Linked DNA regions of Homo sapiens. The protein of the gene in region 2 interacts with the protein of the main gene of each other region in a pairwise test. Each region holds a gene or a part of one and is shown on either strand. Other genes may lie near its edges.

Region 1 (7,055 bases), on a different chromosome or scaffold from region 2:
ATACAGAAGTTTTGTAATACTTAAAAAATGTGTTTAAAATGTCCTCAAGATTTTGTCTCAAATAAAACATGTTAACAGTCTCTGAAAACGTGTTTTTATTTCTAGATCTAAGCTATAATTTCCTCAGAATAAAAAAGTATAAGAAAAAGAGTCCATCCAATAAAAATTAATGAATAAATGTTAAGCTTAAATCAAAGTGAACGTTAAATACAGTAATGTGATATGGTAATACAAACTGACTTAATTGAGAAGATAATGTGAGACTGTGCTTTACCTCATCAAGTCCAAAGTCCCATGACTGCTTAGAGTGCAATTCTTCCGAAGGTATATTTCCCCTAAGGATTATAAATACACAGTATCAAAGTTTGTTGTGTTCCCTCTGGGAATTATTGTTCTAAATTAGAGTTCCCAAACTTGGCTTCAGATCAGAATTATATGGGAAGCTTTCTTAAAAATAAAGATTCATAAGCTCCATGCCAAGGAGCCCACCTATTATGTGCGGGTCAATCTTGGTATTCTATAGTTTAAAATCACTACCTCAAGTAATCTGGACCTGCAGTCAGGATTGGGAACCATGTTCTAAATTGCTTTCATAAGGTACATTTAAAACTCAAGGCCTAACATGATTTTTTCACTCATAAATTTCTAGATATTGGGAGATATAACAACAAAAATACAAATTTGCCAATTTTATGAAATGTTTTGTAAGTCTATGTTTTAATTAATTTGTAGTGCCAATCCCACTAAAATTGCATCTTTTTATCAATCAATATTTTTAATAATTCCACAAGAAATCACTTCCAGAATAAAAATTTATTCTAGTTCATGATTTCCAACCAGAAAGATTTGGCTAAATTGTAATTATTACCAAGAAAGTTAGGACTATTACCAAGAAAGTTAGGACTATTTTAGCTAGAAACTACTAGCTAAAATAAAGTTTTCTTTAGTTACTTATAATTGCAGGTCATTATTCAGAAAAGCCTGGAAGGCAGTTCTCAAACTTTTAAGGAATAAATTTAACATCAACACATAATGGATGAGTGTAAAAATCACCTTAAACTCAGAACATTTTGTACACCAGCTGCAAGAAGAGAAAGAAAAATCTGGTGAAACATAATTGTTTTCAATGTATGGGTAGAGGAGATTGTAATCTTGAACATAGAGAAAACATGGAGTCTCTGAGAGGTAAATGTTGGCAATGAGAAGAGTGCTCTATCCCTAAAATGTACACTGTCCTATAAACTGCTGATATGCTTGCTTATGCCACTAACATCTGAATTCTATCACTCCCTATAGTGATTCTATACCAACCAAGCAAGCAACCTTCCCACTGAGAGCTGTTTGAAAGTAAGAAAATATGCTTTTTCATGTCAATAAGACTTCCTATACATGTTCCCTTTCTATTTATTACTTTAAGTTAATAAATTGACATTCTGGCGGATATGAGTTTCTTGAACACATTAAATCAATTTCCTCAAATCTAATCAACACTAATATTCAGATAAGAAGGTATTTGGGAGCTGGCAAATATGAGCACCACACTCTCAACTGGGGTGATATTATCAACACTGTGACTCCTGGTAAGGCTCCTTTGAGACCAGGTTGCCTGCCCACCCTCAAATGGCAATACGCCTACCTCACTTTGCATCAATTCAACATTCATCATGCATCATACTAGATCCTGATTTGTATTCCCCAGATTTACCTAAAAACTTACATAGAGTTTGCTGGATATTTCTGAATACTTTTCTGTGGTGTCTTCTCTTGGTAATCATTTTCAAATTTTTCTTAAAAAATAAAAGTATGCACCGAGTTAAAAATTTAGCATAGTCTATTTTCATTTTTTAATTCAAAGCATATTCACATGACACGTACAGAGGAAAACCACTGGTCCACAATGTTATATAATAGGAAGCCATTCTATTTTTGGTTTCATTTTCCTCCAAACACATAAACACACATACAAATATATAGATGTGTGTGTATGAATATACAAATATATATACTAAAACTGAAAGAAAAAAAGAATATGTAATTACATTTTCCATGTACAATACCAACCTTTTCTTTCAGAGCTGCTTGGGTAGTAATCGTTCTCAAAAGATGTACTAAGATCATTTCTTTCATTTTTGTTATACTCTCTCTGATACTTCTTGTTTGGCTGACATTTTTCTGGATAACTTGTTTTATTCAAAGTCGAATTACTAAAAGTCAACTCTGGAACTGTAAAAATGTTTCTAATGCATCTGTCAGTGACATGGTTTTTATCAGAACTAGTGACTACACAAGTATCTCCCATACTATCATAATCACACTTGTTAAATGTTTTCTTTATCCTTTGCTCATCTATGTTTAATACATTGATCATATTTTGACTAACAAAAGAGTCACAATTCTCTGATAGAAGGTTAGGAGTAGACTGGTTCACATCTTCAAGAAAATTTGAAACTTCCTTTCCATTTTTCCCCCAAATATGCTGTATTGAGTGTTTTTCAGTAATGTAGTCTGACTGTCTTATTTCATCCGTGCTTCTACAATCTTCATCCATAATTACAGCAGGGCTTTTAGTAAGTAAATTCCTATTTCCTAGACTTTGGGATAAACAAAAACATATTTAGCAAGAAAAGCATGGATTATTTGCATTTAGAAACTCTTACTTTCAATTCTTAGAGGACATATTGAGTTGCTACTAACATTTACCTAGACTATGTTTTTATTTTTTATATTTAAATAAATAATATTGCTTTGGGTGAAAATTTGTCTAATGTGGTCTTCTAATGACTTATTGAGTAAGAAAATAATCTACGGCCAGTTTTTTATTACAACATGAAATGTTAGCATGAGGTTTAATTAAAACATGACCAACCTATAGTATATTTTCTATAATAAAATCTAAAGAATAAACTAGACAACCACTATATGTCATTGCTGTTCCATTTAACCAGAGAAAGATGTTTTGAAGGCTGTGCAGAGAAAATTTATCACCAGTGTTAAAACATAAAATCAAATAGTTATGAGACCATTATAACATATTTTTCAACCTAATATGGATATAAAAACAATTATAAAGTTCCCAAGGAAGAGCAATATAAATACAAATGTGTATATACATAATAAAACCAAGAGATAAGGTGAATTAGATAAAAACTAATTAGATGAGTTAGATAACTTGTAAGTTCTATTCTAATGCAGAAATAATTCTAGGTTAAGTCCAATTTGTGCACAAGAATCAAAGATATAGTGGAAAATAATTACAAATCAAGATGTTTCTTATTTTATTGTCAGTGACTACAAATTTATTTGGAAGTGAGTTGTTCCAGAGGTTGGAGTTATCAAAAAAATTAGGAAAAAAAACCACAGATTGCTAAAACTCTAATAACTATTTTTAAATTATTTATCAAATATTTGATGATCACCTACTCTGTTCCAGGTACTAGGCCATATATTGGCAATAGAGAGATAAAAGAGCTCAGCTTGTTGTTAAAGAGAGAGATTAATGTTTTACCCATGAATGTTCACAGCTCATGATCCTACGTTGTTTCTCAATGAGGGCCTTATTGGTGTTTTAGACAGAATGATGTTATTTTGCTATACCAAAAGACACAGTATATAGTATGCACTAATATACACCATTAACATGAGGAAAATATCTGTTACTCTACATAAAATAGAGGTAAATGCACTTTATAAGATATTAAGCACACTATAAATGTAAATCTTTTTTTATTATTCTTTCAATAGTTTTTGGGAAATGGGTGATGTTTGGTTACATGAACAAGTTCTTTAGTGGTGGTTACTGAGATTTTGGTGCAGCCATTACCCAAGCAGTGTACACTGTACCCAATGTATAGTCTTTTATCCCTCATCCCTCCTCCACCCTCCACCAGAGTCCCCAGAATCCATTATATCAATCTTTTTTGTGTGTGTGGGAGATGGAGTTTTGCTCTTTTCATTCAGGCTGGAGTGCAGTAGTGCAATCTTGGCCCACTGCAACCTCTGCTTCCTGGGTTCAGGCAATTCTCCTGCCTCAGGCTCCTGAATAGCTGGGATTACAGGTGTGTGCCACCACACCCGGCTGACTTTTGTGTTTTTAGTAGAGACAGGGTTTCACCATGTTGGCCAGGGTGGTCTCAAACTCCTGACTTCAGGTGATCCACCTGCTTCAGCATCCCAAAGTGCTGGGATTATAGGTGTAGGCCACCACACCCGGTCCATTATATCAATCTTATGCCTTTGTGTCCTCAAAGCTTAGTTCCCACTTATAAGTAAGAACGTAACAATGTTTGGTTTTCCATTCCTGAGTTACTTCAGTTAGAATAATAGTTTCCAACTCCATCTAGGTTGCTGTGAATGCCATAATTTCATTCCTTTTTATGGCTGAGTAGAATTCCATGGAGTGTGAGTGTGTGAGAGAGTGTGTGTGTGTGTGTGTGCGTATGTATTTTCTTCACCCACTCATTGGTTGATAGGCATTTAGGCTGGTTCCATATTTTTGTAGTTGTGAATTGTGTTGCTATAAACATGCACATGCAAGTGTCTTTTTCATATACTGACTGATTTTCCTCTGGGTAGAAACCCAGCAGTGGGATTGCTGGATCAAATGGTAGTTCACTTTTAGTTCTTTAAGGAGTCTCCATACTGTTTTCCATAGTGGTTGTACTAGTTTACATACCCACCAGCAGTGTAAAAGTATTCCCTTTTCACCACATCCATGCCAACATCTATTATTTTTTCATTTTTTAATTATGACCATTCTTGTAGGAGTAAGGTGGTGATTGCATTGTGGTTTTGATTTGCATTTCCTCCATCTTTAGTGATGTTGAGCATTTTTTCATATCTGTTGACCACTTGTATTATCTTCTTTTGCAAATTGTCTATTCACATACTTAGCCCATTTTTTGATGGGATTACTTGTTTTTTTCTTACTGATTTGAGTTCCTTGTAGATTCTGGATGTTAGTCCTTTGTCAGATGCATAGTTTGGGAAGATTTTCTCCCACTTTCTGGGTTGTCTGTTTACTTTGCTGATTATTTCTTTTGCTGTGCAGATTTTTATTTTAATTAGGTTCCATTTGTTTATTTTTGTTTTTGTTGCATTTGCTTTTGGTTCTTGGTCATGAATTCTTCGCCTAAGCCAATGTCTAGAAGAGTTTTTCCGATGTTATCTTCTAGAATTTTTATGGCTTCATGTCTTAAAGTTTTTTATCAATCTTGACTTGATTTTTATATAAGGTGAGAGATGAGGATCCAGTTTCATACTACATGTGGCTTGCCAACTATCCCAGCACCATTTGTTGAATAGGGTATTCTTTCCCCACTTTATGTTTTGGTTTGCTTTGTCGAAGATCAGTTGACTTTAAGTATTTGGCTTTATTTCTGGGTTCTCTATTCTGCTCCATCTGTCCACATACCTATATTTATACCAGTGCCATGCTGTTTTGGTAACCATAGCCCTGTAGTATAGTTTGAAGTCAGGTAATGTGATGCCTCCAGATTTGTTCTTTTTGCTTAGTCTTCCTTTGGCTCTGTGGGGTTTTTGGGGTGCATATGAGTTTTAGGATATTTTTTCTAGTTCTGTGAAGAATGATATTGGTATTTTGATGGGAATTGCATTGCATTTATAGATTGCTTTTGGCAGTATGGTCATTTTTACAGTATTAATTCTACACATCCATGATCATAGGATGTGTTTCCATTTGTTTGTGTCATCTATGATTTCTTTAAGAAGTGTTTCTAGTTTTTCTTGTAGATATCTTTCACCTCCTTGGTTAGGTGTATTTTATTTTTTGCAGCTGTTGTAAAAGGGGTTGAGTTCTTGATTTGATTCTCAGCTTATTCAGTGTTGATGTATAGCAGTTCTACTGCATTGTGTACATTGATTTTGTACCCTGAAACTTTACTGAGTCCATTTATCAGATCTAGGAGCTTTTTGGATAAGTCCTTAGGGTTTTCCAGGTATACTATTATGTCATTGGTGAACAGCAACAGTTTGAGTTCCTCTTTATCTATTTGGATGCCCTTTATTTCCTTCTCTTGTCTGATTGCTCTGGCTAGGACTTCCAGTACTACGTACAATAGAAGTGGTGAACTCTTGTCTGACTGTTCTGGCTAGGACTTCCAGTACTATGTTGAATAGAAGTGGTGAAAGTGGGCATCCTTGTCTTGTTCCAGTTCTTGGGGGGAATGCTTTCAACTTTCCCCCATTCAGTATAATGCTGGCTGTGGGTGTGTCATAGATGGCTTTTATTATCTTAAGGTATGTCCCTTTTATGCTGATTTTGCTGAGGGTTTTAATCATAAAGTGATACTAGATTTTGTAAAATGCTTTTTCTGCATCTATTGAAATGATCATATAATTCTTATTCTTAATTCTGTTTATGTAGTGTATGATATTTATTGACTTATGTGTGTTAAACCATCCCTGCATCCCTGGTATGAAACTCACTTGATCATGATGTATTATCTTTTGGATATGCTGTTGGATTCAGTTAGCTAGTATTTTGTTGAGGATTTTTGCATCTATATTCATCAGGAATATTGGTCTATAGTTTCCTTTTTTTTTTTTTTTTTTTTGTTATGCCTTTTCCTGGTTTTGGTATTAGGGTGATACTGGCTTCACAGAATGATTTAGGGAGGATTCTCTCTTTATCTTTTGGAATAATTTTCAGTAGGATTGGTACCAATTCTTCTTTGAATGGCTGATAAAATTCAGCGTGAATCCATCTGGTCCCGGACTTTTTTTTTGTTGGCAAGTTTTAAAAATGCTGTTTCAATCTCACTACTTGTCATTGGTCTGTTCAGAGTTTCTATTTCTTCCTGGTTTGATCTAGGAGGGTTGTATATTTCTAGGAATTTATCAATCTCCTGTAGATTTTCTAATTTGTATGTGTAAAGGTGTTCACAGTAGCCTTGAATAATTGTTTGTATTTCTGTAGTATCAGTTATAATATCTCCCATTTTGTTTCTAATTGAGCTTATTTGGGTCTTCTCTATTCTTTGTTAATCTTGCTAATGGTCCATCAATTTTATCTTTTCAAAGAACCAGCTTTTCATTTC
Region 2 (3,599 bases):
TAGGAAGAAACTCTAACTTAAGAAAAAACTTGCAGCTCAAACAACAGGTGAAAGCACACAAATATAGAAACTGTTTTTGAAGAAGTTGGGGATGTTAACCTTTTAGTTCAAGATGGGGGGTTGTTCCAGAGTGAAGGAAGGTGAGATGCCTCCCGTTCTCATGAGCTAATGATTGTTTCCAAACTGGTTAGAATTCAGTGCTAATTGCATTTTAAAACACCACCTCTGAAATCCTTTTCTCTCTCAGGATCTTGCATCAATGTTTCACATTTTCAATGCAACCTTTGCACTTCACCTTTCTCACTCAACAAATTCTGAATGTCAGATCTACGGGAAGAACTCAGTTCAGATCCTTCCTCTCCCCAGCAGGTTTTGATCTGGTGATGGTGATGTCAATTCCTAGGAAAGGCTGTCCTGCCCTGGTTCTGAGGGGAGAGAGACAATTAAAATCGGTACTTTGGTGACTCTACTCAGGCTTGTCCATTCTAACAGGGAGTCATTAAACAACTTTCCAGTGTCATTCAAAGAACTTATAACAGAATCAATTGATTTTCATCCTCTGCTTTATTAGTTGTGATTTAGGAAATAGAATGGCCCTGTTTACACAGCTGTAACATGTCAGGGCCTGTAGTACATTATTGGCTTGAGGCCTCCGAGTTGCCGTCCATTCTCAGCAGAATCAATCTGAACTTGAAAACATTCCCTCTAGGAAACATGCACATATCTACTAGCATAAAGCACTTCTTGCACAACTGAAAACAGTATTCACTTGAGGTAAGTTGCAAGTTCACCTTCCAAAAATCAGCCCTGACTTGTCATTGCTCTCAGCATGTTCACGATGGGAGCAGAGGGCTACAAATGCCTCTTTAACTAGGTACCCAGCATCGGCGAATGTGCTACACTTTGCTGCTAGTCAGATCTCAGACTCTGCAAGTGGGAGTAGCTGGCTGTTTAACATGCGTTCAGAGCACTGCCAATCTAAAATGGCTGCTCAGTAATACTTTAATTGCAGTTTCATGGAAACAAATTGCTATTTAACTGCAATAAGCACTTCTGTGACTTGGCTGCACTAACAATAGGTGAGTCTTAGTAACAAAGCTATAAGTAACATTAACTTGTAAATGGCCTTTTTCCAATGGCCTCTTGAAGGGGTCATAGGTGGGACAGCACCCAGGATAGAATTCCCTGGTGAAGGGTGAAGGGGTCTTTGGGGTGAAGGGTGATGGGGTTTTTGGATCTCCTCAATTTAAATACAATTAGTTAGGCTACATGGGAACTCTTCACTAGACTCCATATGTAGCTCTTGGGTTCACTGTTTATTATATGATTTATGGGCCCTAAGAAATATTTTATATAAATAGTAGTGCACATTAGAATCTTACTATATTGACATTTAAAGCCCTTTAAGAGCTTCCTTTTAGATGATTAGTTGTTTCAAATATCAGTGTTAATAAGGGCAAAAGAAAGAATTTAAATACAGGTAATATTAAGAGGATGACAATTTCACAGACTTCATTTTGGTGTGTCAGTTTTCTCGTTTTGTATTTTATAAGACACTACAGTCCGGGTTAAACTATTTCCTAATAAATCATGAAGAGCTGAAAATAGTTTCTAGTGGCAAACGATTTGGTTTGGAAAAGCTTCAGGCTCCCCTGCCTTGCGGGATGTGTAAATCTAATTAGACAGTTAGATAGGTAAAAAACATTAAACCCTTTTAGAGGACTATCTTTTTACAAAATTGTTTCATTAACAAGAGTGACAATTTGCATGATTGAGACATTTATATGTACCATAAACATAATTTTTTTTATCAGGAGTTCAGCAGGGCTCAGTAACATTTGCTTTTATTTTTAATTGCACTTGCTTGTAGGGACTGGGGGCCATCTTGCTCTATGACGTGGTTAATATTAAATAAGTCCTTTCTAAAGAACAGTGTCCATCTTGCTAACTAATAACATCACAAATGCAATGGATGAAAGGTGGAATAAACTCATAGATTTTTTTTTTTCCTAAGCAATGTTGAGATTGGGGGAGGAACTGCACACAATCGCTGCTCACATCAGAATAAACCTGAGTGTTTTTAGTAGCTTTCTATCCACACAGAGCATCCCCATTAGAGCCGGGTTTTATTGTTTGAAATGCCTCTGGTTTCAAGAAAGTGTTTTACCTAAAGCAAGACTACTACTTAAATATGTTCTATTGTATATTCATAGCTCCATTAGTCCTTCTCCAATTTAGCACATCAAAGAGAAGGCTTCATCACTTGCATGTGGATTATACTAACATGAGTGACATTTGTAATCTTATAGGTCTGCAACTTAAGAAATGCTTTTAGAAGCTCATTATTAAATACGCAGCAGTGCTTGAGGAACCAGCCATATAATAGTTTATTTAAAGTCCGTAATGACCTTAGCCCTCCACATCATTAAATGCGACAATATATTATTTACTAAAGTTATTAACCACCTCCTTTGAATTTGTACATATCAGGGACATAAGTGCTTATGCCAAAAAGAATATAGAAAATGCCTGCAATCTCATTAACCCATTTCCCCCTTTACCATCGCAGTCTAACTTCCTTCAGAAAGTTCCTTAAAGGAAAAAAAACAAATATAAGAACCAGAACTAGTTTGAAGAAATTCCCCAAGGATCTAATTCAAACAGACATCTAATTCAAACATATATATGTGATTTCTTCATATTATTTTCTTGCATTTTATTTTTATAAGGTTCTAACAAAACTATTCACCTCAACTCTATGCCTTTACAATCTCCTCTAGGAGGTTTGAAGTTCAACTGATTTTTTTTTTCCCCTGCCCTGGAATCTCTGAAAACAGGAAGTGAGCACAGAAGTTCTCAAAGGGAAGCTGACTGGTAGTTGAGATGTGCTGAGCTACACCTCTCTACATGGCTCCACGGCTATTCTCAGAGGGAGGGTCTACATCAGGCGCTTTTCTGGAACAAAATAAAATGCCATCTTAAAAAAGAAAATTTAAAATAGTAGCGTTCACACACCTGGTTTTATTAGCCTGTGATGGAAGTTGTAGTTGAAATTTGCTCACATCTAAGGAAGCTGGCAGTACAACCTCAGCCTCCAGGCCTATTTGGTTTTCCTCCTTCCAGCACTAGCTGTTATACTGCATGCTTTCCGGAGGGCAGCTCTGCGGGCAGTGCAGGCACTGTGGTGGACACTCTGCTGCCTGCAACCAGCAACTCAGTATCTCAAGACTAAGACTAAATGAAGTCAGAATCTTCCCCCAAAATACATACGGAAACGCAGTCAGTAAAGAAGTGTAGGAGCAAAACAAAATAAACACCTTACAGCCAACCACACGAGCCTAAGGGTCACCAGGAAATGGCTACTTCACCAATCAAAGATCACCATAAAAAAAGAGCTCTGGGTCCCTACAACTAAGTGAGCTTCAAAATATGTACAGGTATGACTTAGAAATTGTGACTTCCTTCAAAAGCTATAAACTCAATAAGAGAACAGGATGGTTGTGCCGTATTTTTTTTTATACATACTTTTCATCAATACCCAAGGCTTTGTTTGCTATTGAGAAAAAGAATAAACAAAATAGTGGACACTCAAGTATTTA
Region 3 (2,701 bases), on a different chromosome or scaffold from region 2:
CAGGCCCAGGCCCAGCCCTGCTACTTATCATCCATCCACAAGGCCCGGGGCAAGTTATTCTTCTCTCTGCCTCCAGTGACCTCATCTCTAAGGTGGGAATAATAAATCCTGACCACCTACAGTGGTGAGGATTAAATGAGCCCCATGGGTGAGCGTGCCTGGCATCATGCCAGCCATGGGATGGCGAACAAAGACAATCAACGCGATCAGTCACTTGGTAAATATTCATAATTATTAGATGTGTTGAGTTCTGTGCTGGGTACACCAAACTCTTTTTAGGGAACCTCCCCACCCTCACTTCCCTGGTCACCCCATGGTGACCCAGAAGAGCAAATTACCTGAGTAGCACTATGTTTGTCCCAGCCACTGGTGCCCTGGGTACCCAAAAGAATTGTGGCCACGCAGGGAAGAGGCCAAAGTGGGGGGAGATATCACCATGTGGACCCTGGGTCTCCTCAGAGATCAGAGGCCAACCAGGACCCCATCAAGAAAAACTGGACATACTGCCAAGAGATATTTGCAAAAGGAAAAGTAATTCTTTATTACATGAACAGACACTGTACAAATGAGCTTGTTACACAATACAGCTGCATCTCCTTGCTCCAAAGAAGGTGGGGAGAGGCAGAGGGGGAATAGAGCGCATGCAAAGCCCTGAAATAAAAGACCGAGGGACCCTTTTCAGCTCTCTGAAGGCAGGGACTGGAGTTTGCATGTGCAGGCCCTCTGGCCAGTCCTCCACTTGGCCTGATGAGAGTGGGGAGTGGCAAGGGACGTTTCTCCTGCAATAGACACTTAGATTTCTCTCTTGTGGGAAGAAACCACCTGTCCATCCACTGACTCTTCTACATTGATGTGGAAATTGCTGCTGCTACCACCACCTCCTGAAGAGGCTAGAGAGAGAAGGAGTAGGCTTTAGAGTGGGGGAACCTCCCCGCTCTGCCACGGTGGCCAGGACCTTGGCGGGGCTCTGGGAAAACTAGACAGCACCCCTGAGAATGGCCACTGGCCAATCCCTCAAGAGCTGCCAGAGATCTGGTGTTGAATTCCTCATCACAGAGATGGGCAGTGGCAATGGCAGGTATGCCCGGCAGGGAGCAACAATGTCAGGGTTTTTCAAGCTGCACATGAAGGGGGATGAATTGTGGGCATCTTAGCGGAAGTGTATGAAGATGGGGCCTGGGGGAGAGACATGCCCTGAATGAAGCCTACTCAACCTGGAAGTTTCTCAATAAATCACCAGCTGCAATCTCACCTGGGGCTGACAGAAGTTCCCACTGGGGAAGAGGCATCTAATGAATGGGAATGTTCCCACCTAATGGGATGTTTGGGCTCTTTCTCCTTCCTCCCTATTCCGAAGGGGGTGGTGGCTTCAACATCTCCCCTCCCCACCCCACACCAGAAGAGTAAAGCCTTCCTACCTTCCCTGATGGCAATGCCAGCCATCCTGAAAGAAAGAGGGAAGCTGATTTAAGCAAAGGGCACAAGCTCAAGTGTCCGTAAGGGAAGCTCATGTAGATAGCTATGCAGTGTTCTTCAGACCCTACACCACCACCACCCACACATCTGACTCCTCTAGGGGTGGGACATCCTGCTAGCCCATCCAGGCCTGCTATCCCCAAGTAGACAGATTTTGTTTTGTTTTGTTTTGTTTTTTGAGACGGAATCTCACTCTGTCGCCCAGGCTGGAGTGCAGTGGCACGATCTCAGCCCACTGAAACCTCCGCCTCCCGGGTTCAAGTGATTCTTGTGCCTCAGCCTCCCGAGTAGCTGGGATTACAGGCACCCGCCACCACGCCCAGCTAATTTTTGTATTTTTAGTAGAGACGGGGTTTCACCATATTGGCCATGCTGGTCTCGAACTCCTGACCTCAAGTGATCCACCCGCCTTGGACTCCCAAAGTGCTGGGATTACAGGCATGAGCCACTGAGCTGGTCAAGATTCTGAACTACAAGAATACCCATCTATCTCATGCAGAGAATGGAATGAGCACTAGATCTTAACTACCACTAGCCCAGCCTCTATCATTTACAGAAGAAACACGGATCCAGAGAGAGGAAGTGACCTGTCCCAGGTAACAGCCAAGGACCAGAGTGAGGAGTCCAGATCCTCCCTCCTTGCTCAGTTCTCTTTTCACAGTCCCTCAAGGCTGCTTAGGGACACCCTGCCATTCCCTTAGGATGACCCTGCACCCTAGCCACAAGCAGCCCTCATCACTCCTTCCCCTGTGCCCAGGCGCCTACTTGGCATCCTGGCCCTCGAGCAGGCTGCGGTAAGTAGCGATCTCCTGCTCCAGCCGTGTCTTTATGTCAAGCAGCATCTTGTACTCCTGGTTCTGAGCCTCCATCTCGCATCGGAGCTCACTCAGCTGGGCCTCCAGGCCACCAATGAGCCCCTGGATCTGCTGCAGCTGCGTGGCATAGCGGCACTCTGTCTCGGCCAGTGAGTTCTCCAGCCCAGCTTTCTGGGGGAGTGACAGATGCATAGACACATCAGGCTAGAAAGGAAGCCACTGAGGGCAAGCAGGGAGGGGGCACTGAATGGAGTTCAGGGAACCACCTCTTGAGGGGGCTTGAGAACTCCAAGGCTTAAATAGCCAGGAAGAGTGGGAGCTTCTACCACCCGAGAGGCTGGGATGGGGCGCGAGTGGCCGTACCATGCTGAGCTGGGACTGCAGCTCGATCTCCAGCTCCTGCATCGTGC
Region 4 (7,932 bases), on a different chromosome or scaffold from region 2:
ACAGAGTAACATGAGTAACATGAGCGTGAAGACCCCAACATCACCGGTCACCAACAAGACCCTAGAGAATCCCCACTACACATCACAGAAGAGTGTCATTGTAAATGGTTCTGCTGTTGTGAAGTGGTCAGCTGGGAAAAAAGGAACAAGTGGGGGCGTGGGGAGGTGACTGGCTGTGGCCTTTGTACCCTGGACACGAACTAGCAGCAGAAATAAATCCTGGTGCTTCCCCATCCATTTGGTTCTGTTTACCAAGCTCTTATTCTTTGCAAAGCAACCATATCTGGGGAAAGGAGGCAGGAAGAAAAAGGAATTCAAAGAAGTCTCACAAGCCCATGTGAGGTAGGCTCTGGGTGACAAGCTTGGGTACCATGGCTCTTTTTGTTGTAAATTGCCCATAGAATCTGAACTCTCTCTCTTTGGCTCAAACCCTGAGCCATGTCCCTTAAAATTAAACCCTTTCTCCCAAAGAAAAAGATGGAGATTCACATGGGGCAATAATAACACATCCCCACGGATCATCCTCAGGGGACCAGTAAAAGAAATGATGGTAAAAGGAAAGGTGATCACCTCAAGGAATTTTCCCTTGAGAAATTATCACCATGCTGAAGATCTCTGGTATAGCTGTCAACAGAGAAAAGCATCTGTCAAGCTGGCCAGGTGTTGACTAGCAACGCCAACAATACCCTATGCTTGTACCATTCAAGTCTCCCGCAGTCCAAGGCACAGGCACAGGCTTTCCTGTGCTTCACACCACGGGGCCAGGGGCAGTTACTCCATCTTTAGATCTTTAGTCCATGTAGCTCATGGAGCAATGTAATGGACAAAAAAGTTTTAAACAATGATGTCCTGGCATAGAAATTATGTAAATCACCAGGGATTTTATTCCTGTTCCCAGTGTATATTGGACTAAAATGTTTTCATTTAACATCTTTTGCTTTTTCTAATTTCATAACATTTACATCTATCAATTTTCCATTGATTTTGAAGTAGTTGAATGGGTTGAAATTGCAGCTTCAGTCACAGGCAAACTGGCACAGATTTGTTTTCAGACCAGCCACGTTCCTCCTCAGTGTTCTGGACAGAGGCCTCCTTGTCTGTTCTTCCAAGAGTCCCTATTTCTGCTGATGGAACTGCCTTCCTTGGAATTACACAGGCTCTTCACCTTGGTGTCTCCATGGACACCTCCCCTTTGTCTCTCCTTGGCCTCCTCCTTTACTCTTACTCCAAATCTAATCAGTGCCAAATCTGGAACTCTTCTACCCGCCCAGTGGTGCATTCCTTCCTCTCTGGTCCAGCCATGGCCACCAATTCTGGCCTCCCCAGCACCTGCCTCATTTCATGCTGGCCTCCCTGTCTCAAGTCTTGTTCCCTCCTTAGAATGTTTCCTAGACATAGCTGACAAATCAGTCTTCCAGAAAAAGTGATCATGCGATTTCCTTGTTCAATACCATTGAGGTCTCTCTCTCTCTCTCTCTGTCTCTCTCTCTCTTTTCTATTTTATTTTATTTTTCTGGTTCTTAGGAAGTGTGCAGAGGACTCTCCCTTAATGTGGAGAGAGAAAGTCCATACTCCTCAGTCTGTCCTTTAAAGCCTGGTCACATCCAAACAACTCAGTGTTAAATCCCACTGCTGCCTCTTATATCCCCAGTGCACCAACTACTCACTGACCTCTGCACTTGCTTAGAGCAAGTCCACTGTTACTTACGCCTGCAATGCCCCTCTGCTACTGGCTCTGTATATTCAAACATTCCCGTTTTCAAGGTTCAGCCGAAATGTCCAATCTCCAGAAGCCTTCCCTGGCCGCCTTAGATGAAAGGGATCTTTCATTCCTAATTCTATGATGAGAGACACTTTTCTTTGCTAGGCATTGCTGTTCCTCCCCCGACCCTCCCTATCTCCAACACATGACCTCCCTCTGCTGGGAATTTCCTGGGGGCCGCCCTCTGTGACTCTCCCTGCATCTTCCACAGGGACCCAGCAACCTGCCGTGCCCACAGCAGCCTCTGCACAACACCCAAAAGTTTGTACTAGCTTAGATGTTCACGTTTCTCTTCTCCCACACCCTGCTCATCAGGTAGGGAACTTTCCCAGTGAAAACGGAACTTCCCTACTACAATACCAAAACAAGTCAATGTTGCCACTTGATCAAGAACTCTTCCATTTTTGAAATATTTCCTAATGAGCTCAGTTGTCACAGACTGCACCCTGGGGACAGGTCAGACCAGAAAGCAGAGGATGTCACCTGGGCAGGACCAGGGCTGCTCCACGCTGGTGACCACAGGCTGGGTGTTTTGTGCCCCCGGAGGGTTAGGACACACAGCAGCCAGTCGCAAAGGGCGCAAAGGACCAGCGCTTAGTGGGCGGGGCGGGCAGGGGAGAGTCCCGGGAGTTGTACCCTGTTGAATCCCAGCTCCAAACTTTTCCCTCCGTCAGCGCGGAGCCCTCCACCAGCCAGGACTGGCTGACGCCGTGATGCCACAAAAGCCGGGACCGGAAGAGAAAAATGCGTGGGATGGGGAAGGCAAAGGCGGTTATTTTCAGAACTTCGGGGGCTCCCGGGCCTGCCCTTCGGGTTCCCGAGGATGCGAGGCCAGCGTCCGGCCGCCCGCGGGTCCGGACCGGCGCCTGCCCGGGACCGGATGGGCAGCGATTGGGATGCAGATGCCGCTCTGGTGCTGATGCTGCGGCTGCCGCGTAGTGACAGCCGCTCCACCACCCACCGCGCCGAGCTGCGGCTCCGCGCCCCCGGGGGCGCCCGGCGCGCCTGGTCCGCTCCGGCCCCGGGCAAGGCCTGCGGGCTGCGGCGGGCGGCGGGGCCCAGGCCGCTACTCACCCGGAGGGTTGACCGCCGCCGGGGTTGCCATCTTGCTCGGAGAGGATAGGCGCCCGCTTGGCAGGGGCGCGGGAGGGGCGGCGCGGAGCCCGGCGCTCAGCCCCGGGGACCCGGTCAGGCCCAGGCGCCGCCGCCGCCACACAAAGGACGGCGCGGGCGGGCGGCGCTCCCTCCGCTCTCCCCGCCGCCGCGGCCGCTCGCCGTCCCCGCCTTTCTCTCCTCCTCCTCCCCCTCCTCGGCCTCCTCCTCCCGGTTCAGCCTTTGTCGCGCGGCGGGGGGCGCCCGGCCCGCGGCTCCCCGGTCAGAGCGGTAGCACCGCGAGACTTGGGGCTGCGGACGGCGGGACCCCCAAGTTGGGCGCCGGCGACTGGCGGGGGCAGAGGGCCGGGCGCTCCCTCGGGCTCGCGCAGGTGCTCGGGCCTGGCCGGGCTGGGACCGCAGGCGCCTCTCCCGCGCTCGCCTAGCCCGGGCTGCCCCCGCACGCCCACGCCCCAGGTGTCCGGGCGCGCTTTACCCAGGGGCGCCGTGCCCAGGCCAGGAGGCCAGGGCGGAGCGGGTGAGGGAGAAGCCCATTTAGATTCAGAGGGAAGCCGGTCCTGGGAGACGGCCGCGAGGAACAAAGGCGCCCCAGTGCTGCCCACTTAGCATGCCAGAGCCGCGCTGCTCGGCTCCCAGGCCGGGGACACGGCCCGGTGTTAAGCGGAGGGTGCCCGACCGCGGGAATTCCTAAGGCCACGCGCACCTCCAAGGCCACCGCCGCACACAGCTTCGGAGTGCACAGTGCACACGCCCAGGCACAGGCAGCCGGCCCGAGAAATTGTGAATGTCTTGGCTTTGAGTAAGGCGCTCATCTCTACCCTCCTTCCATAATGACTGCCGTTGATTATTACTTGAGGGCGCTGCAAGGGCCTTATTTACACCACCAAGTTGAGAATTTAAAAAGATTTTTTTTTTTAAATAGGTTTATCTGCGTATCCTGGCGAAGTTTGGATGCAGAGAACTTGGAGCTGTTGTTTTCTACCAGACACTAGGATCCCTGAGAGAGGTAATGGCCCCTAGGAAGGACACGTCACCATCGGGGTCCCCTGTAAAGGTTAAATGGAAGAATAAAGACATCCCAGGTGAACGCTGAGAAGGGCAAGTTGGTCCCTAAACGCAGATAATGTTTGCAGAGACATCAAACTGTCTTAAATCCTTCCAAGGAAGCATTTTCTGGAGGGCAGAAAATTTGGGATGTATGTTCAAATAAGCATTTTCTTCGGGGAGTATTTGTCACTACTAATCTAATAGTCTATCAGTTCTACAAATGTTGAATGTCTGCTGTGTGCCAGGCACAAAGCCAGGTGTTGGGCCTACCATGGAAAGGAAGAAACAGGAGCTCTGTTCTTCTGGTTTGGGGGGTAGAGTGGGGAAGAGTGAAACAAAGTATCTGCACTCAAGAAGCACACAGCTCCCTTGGGGGCTTAGGGCAGAAGCCCTGAAATTGGCATCTCCAGCCTGTAGTCACTAATGAATGAATGAGGGCAGAGAGGAGGTGGAGTGATCAGGGAAAATGAAAATTAGGCTTTGAAGACATGAGTAGGACAGGTGGAAAAAGAAGACATTTCAAGTAAAAAATAAAGCAGGTGTGCACCCAGCCACAAGATAGGCCAGGCCCAGACAGAGAAACCAGGGTATCAGCTATGGCCCGCTCTTGTGCCCCGTATCAAAGTTGACTGTTCCTGATTCCAACATCAAGCCAAATGAGAATTCAGCCTCTCTTCTACATACCCCGAAAAGCAACACACTCAAAATACCAACTTAATTAATGTATAACGTATACTGGACTGAAGATTTCTTAAGGAAAGTAAAAGAGGAGGCTCTCTTCACTCACTCCACATCAAAAAAGGTAAAACTCCATCTCAGATATTTCTGCTACCCAGAGTCCCTTCTGGATCCTTCTCCCCACAGGCAGTTCAATCTCTGGTGGCCCATAAATAGCCCATAAATAGCACTTGGCATCACTGCCCCCTATCCCACGAGGCTCTTTTATTCTCCAACTTTCCACACCCCTTAGAAGGAAGCAAGTTCCTCTCCTTGGTGTTTATGTATCAGTTTAGCATTTCAGCCAGGACCCATGGCTCATTTTGTCTCCAAATACAGTTCTAATATCATCCCTAAAAAATAAAATATGAGTGAACATGACTCTTACGCACACACACATTTAACCATACAAATTTGTTGACAAGTTTTACTTTCTTACTCTGCTGTTGTGTTCTGCCCATTTTTCTAAATGTTACTCGGCTGATATCTTTAAAACTGGATCTTGCTCAAGCTTCCTACTTCTTGCACTGGTCCATTGCAATAAAAGACAGGCGACACGTGGACAACTGCTAGACACTTCCCAAGTCTGGAGTCGGCCGTGCTGTGGTTTTTGGTACGTAATAAATACGTTTAGATTTTCACAAAGGAGACATTTCATCTTCTCCCCCAGTCAGTGTATTTCAGAGGTAGAAAGGACCTTCGACATCATCCAATTCTGCCCCTGGAGTTTGCAGATAAGGAAACTGAGGCTCAGGGTAGCCAACGTCATGCAGCTTAATAGCCAGACAAGACTTAGAACTGGGCTACGCACAATACTGGGATTTGGTGGCTGGAGTTGGGGAGCGGTTAGGGTGTAGGGGAAGAAATAGAGAAATGGGCAACTCGCCTTCTCTCTCGTCTCTCAGTATTAAATAGGTTAAATGCTCAGAAACACTGATTGTGGATGAAAGCCCCCCACTTAAGTAAACAATCTGAAATGGAGTGGTTAGTCATTGTTGAATACTGAGTGGCATTTACACAACACAGTGGTCTTGCGCTAATTATGAGAGTCAGTAGACTGTGACCAGTTAACACAGGCTCAGGAATTCCACTCAACCTTTAAACAACCCAGAACTCTTTGAAATTCCAGAGGAGGCTGTTGAATTTGAAGCTGAGATTTGCATTTTTGAAAAGATTAATGCAGATCCACCGGGCCCATAGCACACGATTCTGAGCACAGCGCTCCTAGAAATGACCAGAGTTGACCAGCTGCTGTGCTAATGTGTACCAGGGTCCACAGCCTTTCTTTCTTTCTTCTTTTTTTTTTTTTTTAACTTGATGGGAGAAAGCAGCCACCTGAGTTCTGCTTCATATCCCTTTAAGTCCTAATACTCGAGACAAAGGATTTCCATTGTATAATATATAATGATCCAAGGCAATTTTATCTTTTTTTTTTTTTTGAGACGGAGTTTCACTCTTGTTGCCCAGGCTGGAGTGCAATGGTGCAATCCTGGCTCCCCACAACCTCTGCCTCCCAGGTTCAAGCAATTCTCCTTCCTCAGCCTCCTGAGTAGCTGGATTACAGACATGCACCACCATATCCAGCTAATTTTGTATTTTTAGTAGAGACGGGGTTTCTCCATGTTGGTCAGGCTGGTCTCAAACTCCTGACCTCAGGTGATCCATCTGCCTTGGCCTCCCAAAGTGCTGGGATTACAGGCGTGAGCCACTGCACCCGGTTTTTTGTTTATTTGTTTTTGTTTTTTGTTTTGTTTTTTTTTTTTTAGATGGAGTCTCGCTTTGTCACCAGGCTAGAGTGCAATGGAGTGATCTCAGCTCACTGCAACCTCCAACTCCCTGGTTCAACCAATTCTCCTGCCTCAGCCTCCCAAGTAGCTGGGATTACAGGTGCACCCCCCACCAAACACTCCCAGCTAATTTTTGTATTTTTAGTAGAGATGGGATTTCACCATGTTGGCCAGGATGGTCTTGATCTTCTGACCTCGTGATCCGCCCACCTCGGCCTCCCAAAATGCTGGGATTACAGGCGTGAGCCACCATGCCTGGCTAATTTTATGTTCTTTTAACTTCACTTTAAGATATGAAGAAACCAGGAATGAACGCATGGGCTTCTGCAGAAGGAGAGGCATGGTAGGGCTGCCATGGATATAACCACAGGCTTTCTCTCCATTTATATGTCTCCTCTCAACCCTTCCTTCCTCCTCCATTCTTTCTAACTTCTCTCTCTCTCTTTGCTGGAGATAAAGGCTCATGGGTCTGTGTTATCCCCACTGCTACCTCCTTATCTTTATTTCTACACAGGTGACAACTGCCCACGGATTGTCTGTCCAGGCACTACCCCCAGCCCCCACCCCTGCCTTCTTCTCTATCAAGTCTCTCCTTTACACCAAGAATCATGGACTTATAACAGATCAAATGTGGATGAGATGTTAGTTTTATACAAAAAGGCATAAGCACCAGCCTTTGAAGCGAAAGTGTGGTGTAGGTTTTTGCTCTGTCACTTCATGAAACTTCTCTAAGTCTCACTTTCCTCACCTGGAAAATGGGGATGATGTTACCTACTGTGCTGAGTTTTGGTGAAGATGACATTGAAGGAAGTAATGTGTGTGCTGTATACACTTTAGAGACTTTAAAATGTATTGTGATAGTATTGCAGAGGGAAGAAGAAAAGTATGGCAAGTCTCTGTCCCACAGAGATAGGAAGGGGAAGCTTGTCGTGCTTTACCTTCATGGAGAGTGGAGAGAAGGAAGGAAGGAGGGTGGGAGGGGAAACAGGCAGTCAGACCCAGGTGCTCTAGTTTCCGTGGAAGGTATATCAAGGCAGCTGATGGAATAGCCAAAAGCAGAGGGGTTTCTGGCCACCACCCATGTGGGAGTCTTGGGGAAGATAACACACAGGGTGGTTCTGCAGGGATCGAAGGATGTAGCTGCAAAGCTGGGCTTTATATGGCACTCCTGGCTCCTCGTGGCTCTGTGAAGTATGCTAGGTGTCCCACAGGTGAGGAGACATGAAGGCATTGAGGGTCTAAATTAACAGATATCTGGGTGAGGACTAAAAGGCTATAGTAGGCAAGATTGAATGAACAAGGCCCCAAACCAAGGCCACAGATATCAGCTCTCAGTGTGAGTCTTCCTAAAGATACCTTAATTTTCACCAGCCAAATGACCATCCCAGCCCCTCAGAATGGAGGCGGGCAAGGCTCTAAGGCTCCCTTTTCTCCCACCACTCCCTCCTTGACCACCTAGACACCACCTTGAAGGGGAGCTGGAAGTGAAAGGGAAAGGACCTAAGA

What was found.
Region 1: the proteins of LMO4 (region 2) and REDIC1 interact in binary tests that used the Homo sapiens proteins (3 or more experiments, as listed by UniProt).
Region 3: the proteins of LMO4 (region 2) and KRT15 interact in binary tests that used the Homo sapiens proteins (3 or more experiments, as listed by UniProt).
Region 4: the proteins of LMO4 (region 2) and ARNT2 interact in binary tests that used the Homo sapiens proteins (3 or more experiments, as listed by UniProt).

What each region holds. Positions count from the first base shown.
Region 1 is NC_000012.12:39,678,147-39,685,201, reverse strand, and holds part of REDIC1 (regulator of DNA class I crossover intermediates 1), read right to left. Parts: intron 2,592-7,055; coding exon 2,062-2,591; intron 1,788-2,061; coding exon 1,718-1,787; intron 1,082-1,717; exon of another isoform or gene 890-1,081; intron 336-889; coding exon 275-335; intron 1-274. UniProt on the Homo sapiens protein: Involved in recombination, probably acting by stabilizing recombination intermediates during meiotic crossover formation. Required for normal germline development and fertility.
Region 2 is NC_000001.11:87,345,870-87,349,468, reverse strand, and holds the end of LMO4 (LIM domain transcription factor LMO4), read right to left. Parts: 3' UTR 546-3,599; downstream 1-545. UniProt on the Homo sapiens protein: Transcription cofactor. Plays a role in establishing motor neuron identity, in concert with MNX1, acting, at least in part, to disrupt LDB1-LHX3 complexes thereby negatively modulating interneuron genes in motor neurons.
Region 3 is NC_000017.11:41,513,231-41,515,931, forward strand, and holds the end of KRT15 (keratin, type I cytoskeletal 15), read right to left. Parts: coding exon 2,655-2,701; intron 2,463-2,654; coding exon 2,242-2,462; intron 1,445-2,241; coding exon 1,419-1,444; intron 911-1,418; coding exon of another isoform or gene 891-910; coding exon 793-890; 3' UTR 515-792; downstream 1-514.
Region 4 is NC_000015.10:80,399,451-80,407,382, reverse strand, and holds the start of ARNT2 (aryl hydrocarbon receptor nuclear translocator 2), read right to left. Parts: upstream 3,002-7,932; 5' UTR 2,868-3,001; coding exon 2,837-2,867; intron 1-2,836. UniProt on the Homo sapiens protein: Transcription factor that plays a role in the development of the hypothalamo-pituitary axis, postnatal brain growth, and visual and renal function. Specifically recognizes the xenobiotic response element (XRE).